Homo sapiens: one gene and its partner. The protein of the gene in region 1 purifies or fractionates together with the protein of each later gene. This does not show direct contact. Each region holds a gene or a part of one and is shown in the gene's direction. Other genes may lie near its edges.

The links.
Region 2: the proteins of PLXNA4 (region 1) and NTRK3 purify together in Homo sapiens (affinity purification with western blotting, with the first as the bait; one study listed by BioGRID). This does not show direct contact.

Annotation. Positions count from the first base shown.
Region 1 is NC_000007.14:132,506,072-132,511,431, reverse strand, and holds part of PLXNA4 (plexin-A4 isoform 1 precursor), read left to right. Parts: intron 1-2,652; 5' UTR 2,653-2,738; coding exon 2,739-3,926; intron 3,927-5,360. UniProt on the Homo sapiens protein: Coreceptor for SEMA3A. Necessary for signaling by class 3 semaphorins and subsequent remodeling of the cytoskeleton. Plays a role in axon guidance in the developing nervous system. Class 3 semaphorins bind to a complex composed of a neuropilin and a plexin.
Region 2 is NC_000015.10:87,861,257-87,865,348, reverse strand, and holds part of NTRK3 (NT-3 growth factor receptor isoform a precursor), read left to right. Parts: 3' UTR 1-4,092. UniProt on the Homo sapiens protein: Receptor tyrosine kinase involved in nervous system and probably heart development.

The DNA of each region.
Region 1 (5,360 bases):
TGCTCTATCTTCTGGGCTCTGGAAATGTGCATTTCTAGAAAAGTATGGATTTTGCATTGATTGAAACCTGGACTTCAAACCCAGTTCTGCTACATCTTAACCAGTGTCCTTGCAGAGCTAAAGTTTCCTCACCTGAAATAGGAATAAGACAATTCTGATCCCAGGGAACAGTGGTGAGGATTATGTGAGCCAAGCTATGTGAAAGTATTTGCATGGGCTCTGGGGTGCAGTAAATACTCCACAGATATTGGTATTCGTCTATGCTTCCAGCCCCTCTTTCTGCCAGTCAAGAAACAGTTGTTGAGCCTCCTCTATATGTGCAGCTGTGAATGTGTTGACGAGCAAGACAGACCCAGCCCTGCCCTGTGGAGTTCACAGACCCTCAGCTCCAAACTCTCCTTCTGCAAAGGCTAAGGCTAAATGGAAAGGGAGAGGCTCCTCTCTGGGGGCCTTTGCTCTTTTCCTCTACAATTTCATTTCTGTCTTCAACACTGTGCATTTCAGTCTCAACTTCCCAGTGACATCCTGGCAAGGCTGAAGCTCTCTCTTTTCAGCCTCATCTTCCACCTGATTCATTCATGAACTATGTTCTCCAGACGTACTCTTCCTTGTACACACCCTCATGTGATATGCCCATGCTTCTGCTATGTAGACCCCTCCCCTAGAAGGTCTTTCCCTTCGTGCTCTGACTGTCTTCTTGAAGTTCACAGCTCAGCCCAAATTCCATGCCCTCCCCAAGGCCTCCTGCAGCCTGCTCCTTGCCCTCTCTCACCCTAAGTTAGAAGTCTTCCTCCTCCTAGGAACTTTCAAAGCACTCTCTTGTATGCCATGTGACTTTTTGTCGTGCGTATCAGTTCAGGTTCTGGTGGTATCGGCCTGATTTGACTACGCATTCGTTGAGGATCTGCTCCTTGGGCCCCACAGTGTCTTGCACATTTTGTGTGTGTTCTGAGCAAACATTTGCCACATGGGTGAATGAATGAAGGCCCTTGGCTTTCAGCACTGCTCTTGGTTGTGGTGTGTTCCACTAACCAGTCTTCCTCCTCTGATATTGACTGGAGAAGGCCTGTGCTTTTCATTAGGATGCTGGCTGACAATGCAAAGTCTTTATTTGGTTTTCTTCCTTCTTCTCTTGGTTTCCATCTGACCTAGCGTTTGCTCCCTGCTGGGGAATTTTCCATTGCTTAGTGATCTACCTCTTCTCATTCTCTACTTTTGAGGTGTTTGGGGGTGAATGAGAAAAATTCCACAGAGCTGAGATGCCCCCAGATAGGATGTTGGCAATTCCTGCCCTGAATTCTCTCGAACTGGAAGAAACATAAAGCTGTCCAATGGGAACACATGCAGGAAGCACCTTGAATAGAAAGAGACCCTCAGGATGGGGAGTGATCTTGTTCCTCGGGGAGTTTTGTATTTATTTGTTTATTTATTTGCTTGACTGCTTCTTAAAGCATTTTTTCTCTCCCTTTAATGAAAACCTCTCAGAGGAGGCCCTGCTAGGGGAGGAAGCCAAGATCTGCCTTGTTAAAATAACATTAGGGCTCAGGGTTGGGCAGTGAACCCAGAGGACCTGGTTGCAGCTGCAGTGTGACGAGATTGAGGATGTGGGTTTTTAATTTGGCCTCTTCATCCAGCAGAGGAGGCACAGAGGAAAGTTTCTCCTGCAGTAGTAGGTACAGACACAGAGAACTGGAGGTAGTGGCTGTAATGGACAGCCCCGAGAAGGGATCAACCTTAATTCTTCTGCTGCATGGGACAGGGACCACGGTACAGCCCCAACTGTGCAAGGTTGGGGTGAACTGAGATGGTTTAGCAGTTAAGATTGCGAACCTGTGCACATTTACACTACTCATATTTGGAGCTACCTCTACCACTTATAGCTATGCAAGTTACATGACTTCCCTAAGCTTGCTTTCCTTAGCTATAAAATGTGGCTACAATAGGATGTACTTCGGAGGTCTACCAATCAGGGTCCCAGCAGGTAATAGACAGCACATACAAATTTGGTCCTTTGAGAAAAGGTTAATAAAGGGGCTATTCATAAAAGTGTGGCTCTTTAAGGGGCAATGTAGTATGGGTGGATAGTAATAGTGAGGTCTCTGTTACCACCTCTACGGCCAGATGGGGTCCAGCAGGAGGTGGTTCACAGAGCCTGGAGACGGAGAAACTGTGTGCAGAGGCCTGCTGTGGGGAACACCGGACAAAGCTTGCAGCCAGTGCAGGCAGCCCCGCCTCCTGCCCTTCCTCCCTCCCTCCCTCCCTCCCTCCCTCTTCTCCTCCAGCCAGTCTTTGCGGATGCTGCCTGCTGGTGGCACCTGACCCGGGTGACAGTGCTGGACAGTGTCTGACACAAATTCAGGCACTCAGTAGATAATGGCTGTTAATCATGATCATCATCATCATCACTGCTATTATCATGTCATTATCATCACCACCATTATCGTTACTGATGTGTCCTCCTGGGGCTGCTGCCACCCGGCTCTGACTGTGTCACATGCCCGTGGTGGGGGTTGACTCAGTCAGCCTCCAGCACCCCCCAGTGCAGTTCTGCTCAGTGTGTGCAGAACATTTTGAAAGTCCAGGCAGACAAGCTGTGGGGTGAAATGAAGCCACTGGCATTGTTATCCAGCTCATTGTCTTCCCTTTCTCCAGTAGGGGAGACTGCATTGCTGAGTCCTGGCCCTCTGAGGGGACGACTGTGCCTGAGTGCTGCTGTGCCACTGGGACCCGCCTCTGCCATGAAAGCCATGCCCTGGAACTGGACCTGCCTTCTCTCCCACCTCCTCATGGTGGGCATGGGCTCCTCCACTTTGCTCACCCGGCAGCCAGCCCCGCTGTCCCAGAAGCAGCGGTCATTTGTCACATTCCGAGGAGAGCCCGCCGAGGGTTTCAATCACCTGGTGGTGGATGAGAGGACAGGACACATTTACTTGGGGGCCGTCAATCGGATTTACAAGCTCTCCAGCGACCTGAAGGTCTTGGTGACGCATGAGACAGGGCCGGACGAGGACAACCCCAAGTGTTACCCACCCCGCATCGTCCAGACCTGCAATGAGCCCCTGACCACCACCAACAATGTCAACAAGATGCTCCTCATAGACTACAAGGAGAACAGGCTGATTGCCTGTGGGAGCCTGTACCAAGGCATCTGCAAGCTGCTGAGGCTGGAGGACCTCTTCAAGCTGGGGGAGCCTTATCATAAGAAGGAGCACTATCTGTCAGGTGTCAACGAGAGCGGCTCAGTCTTTGGAGTGATCGTCTCCTACAGCAACCTGGATGACAAGCTGTTCATTGCCACGGCAGTGGATGGGAAGCCCGAGTATTTTCCCACCATCTCCAGCCGGAAACTGACCAAGAACTCTGAGGCGGATGGCATGTTCGCGTACGTCTTCCATGATGAGTTCGTGGCCTCGATGATTAAGATCCCTTCGGACACCTTCACCATCATCCCTGACTTTGATATCTACTATGTCTATGGTTTTAGCAGTGGCAACTTTGTCTACTTTTTGACCCTCCAACCTGAGATGGTGTCTCCACCAGGCTCCACCACCAAGGAGCAGGTGTATACATCCAAGCTCGTGAGGCTTTGCAAGGAGGACACAGCCTTCAACTCCTATGTAGAGGTGCCCATTGGCTGTGAGCGCAGTGGGGTGGAGTACCGCCTGCTGCAGGCTGCCTACCTGTCCAAAGCGGGGGCCGTGCTTGGCAGGACCCTTGGAGTCCATCCAGATGATGACCTGCTCTTCACCGTCTTCTCCAAGGGCCAGAAGCGGAAAATGAAATCCCTGGATGAGTCGGCCCTGTGCATCTTCATCTTGAAGCAGATAAATGACCGCATTAAGGAGCGGCTGCAGTCTTGTTACCGGGGCGAGGGCACGCTGGACCTGGCCTGGCTCAAGGTGAAGGACATCCCCTGCAGCAGTGCGGTGAGTACAGGGAGGGCTGCGCGCTGGGATGGTTGGGAGTGTAGGATGAGAACCCCAGCCTGTAGCCCCCATGGGATGTGTATCATCCTTCCCCTTTTGCAGATGAAGTGAGTATATCCCATCCCATCTCTGAGTCTCATTGGACCCAGAGTGTCACCAAATATTCTGCAACTATGACATTGAATGTATAAGAGTCAGAGTGGGAGCTGAAACATAAATTCCCATCAGTGTACTTTTCTCTGCCTCATATTGGCTCACTAGTTATGACGGGGAGTGCTGGAAATAGGTAGGAATTGTGTCAAATGGATGTCGTAGGGACCGGGCATGGCTGGAGTCTAGATCACAGTGTGCTGTAGTGCAAGACACGTACATGCCCTTTGTACTCACCAAGCCTGCAAATAACTTTCCTGGGAGCTTAGAATAAAAACCATATGGTAGAAGGAGAGGAGAATGTGAGGAGTCATCCTACATTTGGGATAGATATGGAATTTCAGGAGAGGTGTGTTTTTAGCCCTTTGTATGTCTTTAGGAAATGCTAAAATGAGAGCACAGTCAGGTAAGAGTGCAGTGAACACATAGAGAAAGCAAAGCTAACTTAGAAAAGGGATGGGAAGGGACAAATTGTGTTTATTGAGCATCTTCTGTGTGCACAGTGCCTTGGAAGAGACATGTGAGAAAGTCAGGAAGCAGCCGGAGAGCAGCATGGGATGATGGGAGAGCTGTGGGGAGCCAGAGGGAGAGCAGGAGAAGGGTTGGCTTAGGGGTCTTCGCATGGCTGGTGGGTATGGCCTTGCTGGGTTACCCCAGGTGAAGCAGGGGACACAGACTCCTGCCTGTCACAGCCTAGCTCACGTGTGCCCCACCATGAAAAGCATCCCCCTTCTTGTGGCTTGACTCTGTTCCTCTTCACAATGGTCCTGCTTTTTCACTATCATTCTTTGGGTGACTTGGAAGGCTCAGCTATCAGCATCTTCAGTGTTCTTGTCCTTTTCCTTTTATAACTGTGCATTTTAAAGATTATGAACCTAGTCTGAGAACATCAATTCTCTAATTTTAATTTGGGGAGAAGAAGAAAGGAAAATGTATCCATTGGACAGAAGTACGCATCCATACTGATGTGATTCTTGACTCCTTAAACTTTGGTGGAGTTCCATATTAGGAAATGTATTTTGGTTGTTTAAAAAAGTGTAAATTTCCTTTCATAAAGTATAACTATGTGCCAGGCAGATCTCAGTGGGGACTGGCACCCTCCCCAGCCAGAGTGTGGAGAGGCCATCACTCTGGTCTTTGGGATTTGGGTTGGAGATAGGGAAGAGGGAGGAGAAAGATGGTGCCCTGGCATTAGGCTTAAGCTGTTTTCCACTGTCAAGTCTTCCAGGCACTGGGCCAGCTGAAACTAAGAGATGTCGTCTCTTCTTGGAGGTCTTGAAAATC
Region 2 (4,092 bases), on another chromosome or scaffold:
CCTAAAAAATCCCAGGTGTTTGTGATGACAAGCCACTATTATAAGTACTCTGTATTAGTGACTACTTGGCAAGTAAAATTTTCTCAAATGTTATTTTTCATAGATCTCCAAGCAACAATCACTTGCAGTGTATCTGACAAAATGCTATACATGATTTTCTAAAAGTATTTTGATCACTCCAGAAAGAAATCAGAATAAAGCTGCATACCCCAAATCCTAGAAAATTCACAAATATTTTGCTCAAGTTCAGGCTCTCTCAGCTTCTCTTTTCTCTTTAACTTTTGCCTCATACAGAGGCAATCTTGATGACAAAAGATTGGGCTCAATTTTTGTTTTTCTTGTGTAGAAAAGCAACACCTCTGTTTCGGACTACTGTTCAGTAGACAAAAAGCATCCCAGCTTTCGAAATGAGAGTCCAAATTGGGTTACCACTGAGATTTTAAATTATGATGTGAAATTGGAGAAGGTGAACTGTACAGGGCCAGACAAATAATAGAGCCCACTCTCTGGGCAGTTGCATGCAGTCTTGCTGGGTGCTGAGCTGAGAGACTGAGAGCCGCTTTTGAGACGTGTTTTGAGGCATATCTTCCTTAAATTTTTGCTGGTGTCTGTTTTTTAGAAGTTTTGCCATTAGCATTTTTCACTTTGAGTATCTAGCCATGGAGAATGCTCTAAAAAATACAAGGAGACAGGGGGATGCTTTATCTATTTGGCTTAGTCACTGGTTCAGGGTGAAGTTTCATAATTTATTCTGATAATCTGGAGGGGATGACCTCCTTCACAGTACTGTTAAAGCCTTCCTTGAACAAGCTCATTTCACTATATAACTTCCTAAAGACAAGGCTGATTATTTAAGGATTTCAGAGATATCATTTGGGGAATAACTCACCAGGTAGAGAAAGTTTGACCTGATATGTTAACAGGCACAACAAGAACTTATTTCAATGCTTTCTCACCATCTGCCCCTTCTCTGAGAGTTTAGCCTTTCTTAGGATACTTCCTTTTCCAGGCTAGAAAAGATTGATTGTATTCATATCCCAAAGTAAAGGCTCCTCCAATTCTATCAGATGTGGAGGCAACAGAAAATGACTCATGTTATTTTTCTCTCACTTCACAGCATCAAGAACTCTTCTTGTTTATGTGGGGGCCATGGTGGATTAGCTTGAGGAACTGTCAAATTAAAATGAAAGGAAAGCAAGTTGGGGCAAGAAAATTCTCACTCTGAATGTGAAAGAAAATAGCAGTGTTCTTCTCTCTGGCAAAGATTTGTGTACTGTTGGGGGAAGATTCATGTTATTTCTCAGGTAGACTTTACTTTTTGAGATTCTGTGTGTGTGTGTGTGTGTGTGTGTGTATGTGTGTGTGTGTGTGTGTATTTTGCCTGGTGGGGGGTTAAAGGCAGATAGAATGTAGTTGTTTATGAGTTTATACTTTCTCTTTAGCATAATAGATGCCCTGTTTATTTTCTCAGAATGTGACAATAAAATTAGGAAAGGAGAGGAATTCAGAGGCCCATGTTGCAGTTCATGGCAAAGTTTTACCCAAATATTTCCTTCAGAAACATTTAGTCATAGCAAGCCATATAAATTATTGTCTGCAACTGGTATCAGAAAAAGAAATCAGTAGGTGGGGACTGTAGACCCCAATGGTGCATCTGTTTACAATCTTTCTTTTCCAAGGTTTTAAGGTTCATGAATAACATGAGGGAATTTTGGGAGAGCTACCACATCAGTACTTTGGCACGCATTAACTGTTCCACAGGAAAACTAGGGTTGCTTCAGGGCTATTTTTGTTTGAAATGACACACATACAAAAAAAAAAAAAGACTTTTGGAACATGTTTTGAGGCCTGTCACCTGAAATCAGCCTTTGCTGAAAGAGTATTTAGTTTGATAAGCGGGATTTCTTGCTTCTCGCATCCCAGAGTGTAAATTCTGCAGCGAAGCCTGGGTGTATGTTTTCAGCACCAGGGACAGCAAACAACCCCCTGAATTGAAGGGGCCCGCTATCCTGATTGACCTCCCAGACTAGGAAGGGCAGTTGTTTTGTTTTCCTTTATTTCCTATCTACCGGAGCCTCAACTTGGAAGACTTTATTCTTAAGGTTCTTACATCTTTCATTTATTACCAAGCCTAGCTTAGCTGTCTCTGTCACATTCTTGACCTCCTAACAAATGGGTTTGGAGTAACACTCCCAGCTCTCCTGGCTCAGAGAAGTAGAAAGAAACACACTAGACTTCATTTGAAGGGCATGCTTTAGAGTAGGCTCCCCCTACACAAGTCTTTATAACATACCACTGACTTGTAAACCCCTAAATGAAGGACTGCTTATACACAATCATTTTCCTTTTAACATTTCTGCACATTTCTCACAATGTACAAGTCTATGTTTGACTCAGTGTGCATCTGGAGGCAATGTTTCACAGCAGTTGAGCAGAAGCTATGAAGTTTGGGGACAGAAAAGGTCCCAGTGATGCTGCTGTTATTCATTTTGGAGACTCATTGGGGGCACTTCTCTGATTCTCAGCATCCACCCTTCAACCCTGAGTGCTCTTTAACAGCTGTTTTTGCCTTAAACAATCACAATAAGAATGCAAATGACTCCTTGTGGCATTCTTCAGGCCAGACTGAAGGGTGTACTGAGAAAACAAGGGTAGCAGAAGCACATGTTGTCACATTGCTTTGTGATTGGCCAGTTTTTATATAGCACAATGACACACAGATATCATCTTAGAGTCATCATTGTCTACTCTTAACTAATTGTCAGCATCTTCTCCACTCATGTCAGGATGAATCCTGTGTTGGGAAGGCAAGTCAGTCACTGCAGGTTTCATCATAAATATTGCCTTCTATCTGACAGATGTTAGAAAACCTCCATTTTGAATGCCTCTGTACCATCCAAGGCTCTGAATTTCCCCTATATCTTATCCCTTTCTTTCCATTCCCTTTCCATGTTGCTTATCATAACATCCATAACATTTAGTGGTGTAAGAAAATAAGGGGTTTCTTTTAGGAATAAATGAGGTGGAAAAAGTAGGACAGAGCCAGATCTCAGAGGAGCAAGTTCAGTGGAACGATGATTTCTAACTTGGGAGTGGGTCTAAGATGTAGCCATCCATTCCTTCCATTCCTTGTCCTCTTGAGTGAATCTCATTCCAGTGCTCACACTTGCCCTGCAAAAAAGGCCATGGCACAAGATTCTCTAGATTATTTGTATGAAGACTGGAGGTGAGCAGCATCCAACACCTCTGTTAGAGTTCTTTAGAATAGAGGAGTTTTGTCTTATATTTTAATCCAGGAACCTTCCCATATTTAAAAAGTTTAGAAATAATATGTACAGAAAGGACCTATGGGGATAGGAAAGCTTAATAATACAAGTTATTTTCCCTTAGAACAGAGGGGAAGGAGCTGCAAAGTGACTGCTAATGGAGGAACGATCTGCTGGCTGGGGGAAATGTGGCCTGAGACTAGAGATGCAGAGCAGGCATCTCTAGAAGGAGAGATGATGCCAATAGAAGCCCCAGGAGGGAACTGGCCAGCGAATACAATTTTATAAAGATTCTCAGTACTTTTTCTGAAAAAATTCCTAAAATTTTCAAGGGCGCGTCTAGCCCTCTGCCTCTTTAGAGGTGAGCTCAGTGCTACTTCTGGGTTCTTAAGGCAAATGCCCTACAAACACCAAAGTCTTGTATTTTCCACTCTCAGCCGGCACTGGCTAAGTGGGATTTTTTTTTTCCCTTCCCTAAGTGAAAGGGACTTGTTTTCAGGAGAAGTGTCCTTTAAACATCCAGCTAAAACTGGAAGTAATTTTTTGCATGAATGGCTTTTTACAGCTAGGTCTACAGCAGAACAAAACTTGTATTAAACTAAGTGCTACTTTACATATCTTATTTCAAGGGAAATGAAGGATTTATTGTCGTGTAAATGATATACACTGATTTGTTTCCTACTGGACATTACATGTCCCTTTATCTCTAGGCTGATGTTGTGCAGCAAACTTTCAATATCTGGAAAATCAGCTGGTACCTACTTCAGTGCATTATTAGGATATTACGTTCCCTGAGAGGAATTTTGCCAATGAAGTTTAGGTACTG